Linked DNA regions of Homo sapiens. The protein of the gene in region 1 purifies or fractionates together with the protein of each later gene. This does not show direct contact. Each region holds a gene or a part of one and is shown on either strand. Other genes may lie near its edges.

Evidence for each region. The genes of interacting proteins can lie anywhere in the genome.
Region 2: the proteins of SLC25A10 (region 1) and SCGB2A1 purify together in Homo sapiens (affinity purification with mass spectrometry; 2 studies listed by BioGRID and IntAct, with this or other methods). This does not show direct contact.

Annotation. Positions count from the first base shown.
Region 1 is NC_000017.11:81,715,251-81,718,518, reverse strand, and holds part of SLC25A10 (mitochondrial dicarboxylate carrier), read right to left. Parts: intron 3,042-3,268; coding exon 2,927-3,041; intron 2,827-2,926; coding exon 2,778-2,826; intron 2,511-2,777; coding exon 2,469-2,510; intron 1,708-2,468; coding exon 1,664-1,707; intron 1,518-1,663; coding exon 1,447-1,517; intron 1,121-1,446; coding exon 1,028-1,120; intron 763-1,027; coding exon of another isoform or gene 736-762; coding exon 658-735; intron 468-657; coding exon of another isoform or gene 351-467; exon of another isoform or gene 175-350; intron 1-174. UniProt on the Homo sapiens protein: Catalyzes the electroneutral exchange or flux of physiologically important metabolites such as dicarboxylates (malonate, malate, succinate), inorganic sulfur-containing anions, and phosphate, across mitochondrial inner membrane.
Region 2 is NC_000011.10:62,211,601-62,214,525, reverse strand, and holds the end of SCGB2A1 (mammaglobin-B precursor), read right to left. Parts: intron 801-2,925; coding exon 756-800; 3' UTR 583-755; downstream 1-582. UniProt on the Homo sapiens protein: May bind androgens and other steroids, may also bind estramustine, a chemotherapeutic agent used for prostate cancer. May be under transcriptional regulation of steroid hormones.

The DNA of each region.
Region 1 (3,268 bases):
CAAGCCTGACCAATTTTGTTTTGTTTTGTTTTTTTGAGACAGTTTCACTCTTGTGGCCCAGGCTGGGGTGCAATGGTGTGATCTCGGCTCACTGCAACCTCCGCCTCCCAGGTTCAAGCGATTCTCCTGCCTCAGCCTCCCGAGTAGCTGGGATTACAGGCGCACGCCACCACACCCAGCCAATTTTTTGTATTTTTAGTAGAGAGGGGGTTTCACCATGTTGGCCAGGCTGGTCTTGAACTCCTGACCTCAGGTGATCTGCTTGCCTCGACCTCCCAAAGTGCTGGGATGATAGGCATGAGCCACCGCACCTGGCCCCTAATTTTTGTAATTTTGGTAGAGACAGGGTTTCAGTATGTTGCCCAGGCTGGTCTTGAACTCCTAGACTCAAGCAGTCTGCCTGCCTCAGGCTCCCAAAGTGCTGGGGTTACAGGCATGAGCCACTGCGCCGGGCCAAGAAGTCTTCTCTAAAAACAAAAACAAGGCAAAGGCATTCAAAGGCACAACCCTCTCCCAAGGCAAGTGCTGTGCAGAGACAGGCAACTAGAAGGGAGGGACACCCTTCCCCGGGTCCCCAGTGCGAGTGTCCACCCCCCGGAGAGGTGAGGGGACTCGCTGGGCTGTGCAGCCCAACTGCACAGGCAGGGCCCCACTCACCTGATACTCCCCCTTGGAGTTCATCAGGCGAGTCTTCAGCACATCCAGGGGCTGGCACAGGAACGTGGCACATCCACCCTGAGGAGGGGGCTCGTCACCAGCGGCCTGTCAGGTACGCCAGGCACCATCGCCGAATCCCACCCACGTGCCAGAACCTCCACCTGACTCCTAGGGCGGGCCAGGAACATGCTGGCGGGGGCACCAGGCTGACCCATGAGCTCCCAAAGCCCTGGCACCCCACTTATGAGCCCCAGGGGGCACTGCCAGATGCCCAAGGCCCCCGCCTCCCCCAGCCCTCGCCCCATCCTGGGTGCCCTCAGCGCCCAAGGCCGGCCCAGGGACGCCCACCCTAGCCATGCCGGCCACTTACTGCAATAAAGCTGGCGACAAAGTGAGTGAAGATGTTGTCAGAGAGGTACCCGGTGCTAAGGACCAGCTGCTTGGCCTGGTCGTAGCAGGACAGCTGCAGGGGCACAAGGGCGGTCAGGGCTGTAGGGGGGACCCCAGCTTGGGGAAAGCACACAGGGCCCCAGGCGACACCACCTGGCAATGGCCAAGCACCTGCTCCGTCTGTCCGTCCGTGAGGCCCAGACAGGGGAGGCACCTGCCCGAGGTCCTTCACAGGCTGCAGCCCTGACCCACCCGTGCCCCCCACCCTGCCCCACAAGGTCACAGCTGGTGGCTCCCCAGGAGGGTTTTGGCGCCCAGTGCCTTGTTCTATGGCCCCTCTGAAGATGGAGGTCAGTGGTCACAGGCACTGCCCACACCCACCCCACGCAGGAGGCCTACCTGGCCCACAGTGACTAAGGCCCCTCGGCTGGATGCCATGGTTGCACCCGAGAACAGTCTCCTGAGACCCTCTGCACAAGGAAGGGGTGAGGCAAGGGGTGAGGCAAGGGGTGAGGCCAGGCACCTGGCCCAAATCCCTCAGCGCCCAGTCTTCTACAGCGCTGCCCACCCTGCCTGCCCCCCAGAACCCTGCCTGTGCACAGCACCTGCCCCTCACCTTCACGAGCTACGCGGTACAGGCCATCCAGCGCATGGGCGTAGCTGCCGGGGACACAGAATGACCACATGAGACTCCCCCTGACCACCGGCTCCCACAGAGGGTCCTCCCAGGCCCCGAGGCAGGCCGGGGGTTCTCGAGGAAGCAGAGGCCTCATGGGCCTGAAGATCTCTCCCTGGGAACATGAAGCTGGTCCTGACGTCCCACAGCCACCTCGCCCGCCCCGCCCGGCCCTCAGGGAGGAGGTTCCATCGTTTCCAACAGAGTCCCTGGCTGGGCACCGCTCCTAGCATGCAGGCCTCCTGCCCGCCAGCCCCCGGGGTCCTGGGGGAACACAGTCTGTGTGCACAGCTAGAAGCCAGAACTCCCCAGGGGTCCTTGGAAGGGGCGGGGGAAGTGGCTCACACTGCAGTTGGAGCGGACCCCGGGCCCTGGAAAGACCCCAGGCCGTGGCAGGAGGGCACAGCTGCCCTGAGCTGGGCAGGGAGGCAGCGCCTCCTTCGGGCGTTTCTGTTGCATGCGCTCTCTCCATGCCTGGGGCGTTCGCCTCCGCACTCACCACCCTGGGGTGCAAACAGGCCCAGCCCCCAATCCAACAAGGCTCTCCCCACAGGAAGAACCCAAAGGTCCTGGGGGCGCAGAGTGACACCCCCGAGTCCAGAACAGCCGTCAGGACCCTCCATGGACCGTGCAGGCACCTCGGCCTGCTGGAGCCTCAGCTGGGTCACGGCAGAGCAGCCAGGGGTCCGCTCCCGCCCGAGCCTCCTGCACCTCAACCACCCCGAGAAGGCCGCCCATGACTCACTTGCGCCGCTGACCCTGGGGCAGCTTCACGTCGTTCTGCATCCTGAAACAGAAGCAGGTGGCGGGAGGGGCGGGCGGGCCGAGGGGCATGGGCAGCCCTGGCAGCACAGGGGAGCTCACGCTGGTCAGCGGGGCCCACAGGACAGGGCACGCCGGGGCTCAGGGACACCCACCCTCCTATGCCCAGGACACCAGGGTCTCAGTGGCTTATTCCAGGCTGACCCCACCCTGCAAGCAGCCCTGGCAGGCCCTGGCATGTCTGGGGACAAGAAAGCCCCTGGCCTTGCAGGTGGGGTGGGGGAACACCAACCTGACGTTGACCAAGTCTGCGGGCGTCCCCACGAAGCCTCCAGCTAAACCTGCGGTGACACAAACCCCAGAGATGAGCCGTGCTGACACACGGCGTCCTCGGCCGACCTGACCACCCCGCGCCCCTCCCCCTCCCGCCCGGCAGCTCACCGCTGACGGAGCCCAGCAACACCTTCTCGTGGAAGGGGAGAGGCCCCTGGCTGCCCTTGGCCACACGGTCCCGCACAGTCTCGTAGATGGCGAACCGAGTCAGGGAGTAGGTCATCTGGGGGAGAAGGGCCTGGCTTGGAGGGACGGGCACGCCCCACACCCCTCAGCCTCGCCACCCGGCCCAGCCAGGGATCCCCCTCAGCCCGAGGGGCCACAGGGACCCTGAGGGGCCTTCCCAAGGCCACTGTGCCAGCATGCGGCTGAGCCAGTTCACAAATCTAGAGCTGCACCCTGCTTTCTCACTCCCTGGGCCTCAGCTTCCCCACCAGTAAGTGGCGGTCT
Region 2 (2,925 bases), on another chromosome or scaffold:
AAAGTTGCACAATTTAAGGTGTCGCTATGCTAGCAAACTCAGTCATCAGGGTAAGTAATATTTTCATGCAATATTTTAAAAGTTCAAAATTAATGCCAACATCCATGAACGACAAATAAAACTCAAAATTTAAAATCCAGACAGGATCCACCTTGCTTTGCAGGCCTCCCCTCCCTGGCTGGCTCTGGTCTGGGCCCTGCACACGTTGGGGAGGCCCAAAGACAACCCAGAGGAGCCTGGCATAACCAGCAGGGCTCAGCATGGATGGGACTGGGGTAAAATCAGGGCTTCTGAGCATGACTCCAAGAGTGTGAGGTCCCCAGAGAAAGTGGCTTAGGGAGGTAGTGGGATGTGGAGAGTGAAACACTCTTCAGAGAAAAATTAGCTAAGCAACAAGAGCTAATACTTTGTTCTGCAGAGAGAGAGAAGTCCAACTCTTGGGCTCGAGATGATGAGAAATAAAGTATTTCCCAGAAACCTCGGACCCTCACTCAACTCCTTCGAGGCTTGTCTCTGTCTGCAACCTACAGCCTGACTGTGCAGCCTGGAAAGCTTCTTTTTTTATAGAAGAACAAGAAAGAATTTTAGTGATTTGCAGTTAGTTTATTGAAATGGAAATGAATTTGAGGTTTCAACAGTTGTCTAGCAGTTTCCACATAAAAAGACAACACAAGAAAGAAAAGTGGTTTCTAGCAATCAACAGATGAGTTCTGGCCATAGTCTGTAGCCCTCTGAGCCAAACGCCTTGGGTAAAGTTAATTACTCTTCATATTACACCAAATGCTGTCGTACACTGTATGCTGGAAAACAAAAGCAGGTCACTTAGGTTTGCAAATTTCACTTATTAAATCAAATATTAAAACTTGTCTTCTTGTTTTCTTGCATTTGTCCACAAACAGCTAACTCTCAGGAGGATTTGCAGTGGAAGCAAAGCCAGCATCCCCTCTCCATTTATTCTGTTATCTAGGAGACACTTCATAATGCCAAACAGGGGCCAGGGTTGTAGGATCTCTTCCCTACCAGTGATCCATGTAATACTTTTTTTCTCCAAAAATTCTATCCTTTGAAATAACTTATCCAATAAATATGCTGCATATACTATTTGTTGAAGACCTGATCATTTGGACTGTTTCTGATACCACTTTTACAACACAGAATTATTAAAAAATCTCAGCTCAGATACAAGAATGTGATGGTTTTGAGTTGCTGCACAGGCATAAAAGGTAGAAATGTTGTAACAGTCTGAGACTCTTCACCATTACCTTTGAGGCCTATGAAATATTGGAGCTGGGCTGGGTGGGATGGCTCATGCCTGTAATCCCAGCACTTTGGGAAGCCAAGGAGGGCAGATTGCTTGACCCCAGGAGTTTAAACCAGCCTGGACAATATGACAAAATGCCATCTCTACAAAAAAAAAAATATATATATATATATGTGTATATATGTGTATATATGTATATATGTGTATATATGTGTATATATGTATATATGTGTGTATATATGTATATATGTGCATATATGTGTACATATATGCATGTATATGTGCACATATATGTGTACATATGTGTACATATGTGTGTACATATGTGTGTATATATGTGTGTGTGTATATATATGTATATATATGCCAGGTGTGTTAGTGTGCACCTGTAGTCGCAGCTACTCAGGAGGCTGAAGCGGGAGGATCACTTGAGCCCAGGAGATGGAGGCTGCAGTGAGCTGTGATTGTACCACTGCATTCCAGCCTGGGCAAAAGAGCAAGACTCTGTCTCAAAAACAAAAACAAAGACAAAAAAACGGAAACAAGAAACACTGGAGTTTTACAATATGAATGATTAATCTGAGGGGTTTTTTTGGTTTGTTTAGGATTTTTGTTTGTTTGTTTGTTTTTGAGATGGAGTCTTACTCTGTTGCCCAGGCTGGAGTGCGGTGGCACTATCTTGGCTCACTGCAATCTCTGCCTCCTGGCTTCAAGTAATTCTTCTGCCTCAGCCACCCAAGCAGCTGGAATTACAGGTGTGCGCCACCACGCCTAGCTAATTTTTGTATTTTTAGTAGAGACAGGGTTTCAGCATGTTGGCCAGGCTGGTCTTGAACTCCTGACCTCAAGTGATCTGCCCGCCTTGGCCTCCTAAAGTGCTGGGATTACAGGTATGAGGGATGCACCTGGCTAATCTGAGTTTTTAAAGAAAAAAATGATTCAACCATCCCAAATTGCAGTTAATATTTATTTTTATCCTTGAGCATTTGATATATCTTTACATTTTTTATTATGGAATGTTTTAAATAAAATTTTAGGGTATTAAATAAATTCTTAAAAAAAAAATGTAATCCCAGCACTTTGGGAGGCTGAAGCGGGCAGATCACCTGAGGTCAGGAGTTTGAGACCAGCCTGGCCAACATGGTGAAACCCCATCTCTACTTAAAATACAAAAATTAGCAGGCTGTGGTGTTGTGTGCCAGTAATTCCAGCTACTCCGAAGACTGAGGCAGGAGAATCACTTGAACTCAGGAGCCGGAGATTGTAGTGAGCCGAGATCGTGCCATTGCACTCCAGCCTGAGCAACAAGAGCTAAACTCCATCTCGAAAAAAACGAAAAACAAAAAACAAAACTCGTAACCAACACATCTTTATAAACAGACAGAAATACTCCTTGTTATAACCACTGACTTTTGTTTTAAACAATTCTAGCACTCGTGCTGTTTCATACCCATAATCTGCACTTCCCACTTCATGAGGCACTTAATTAAGTGGTGCATGACTTCCAGTCATGTATGCTAACAAATCTTGGTTGCTTGGACTTGCATTTTAAATTCTTTATTTTAGGCCGGGAGCAGTGGCTCACACCTGTAATCCCAGCACTTTGGGAGGCCGAGGCGGGCAGATCACCTGAGGTCAGGAGTTCAAGACCAGCCTGGCCAACA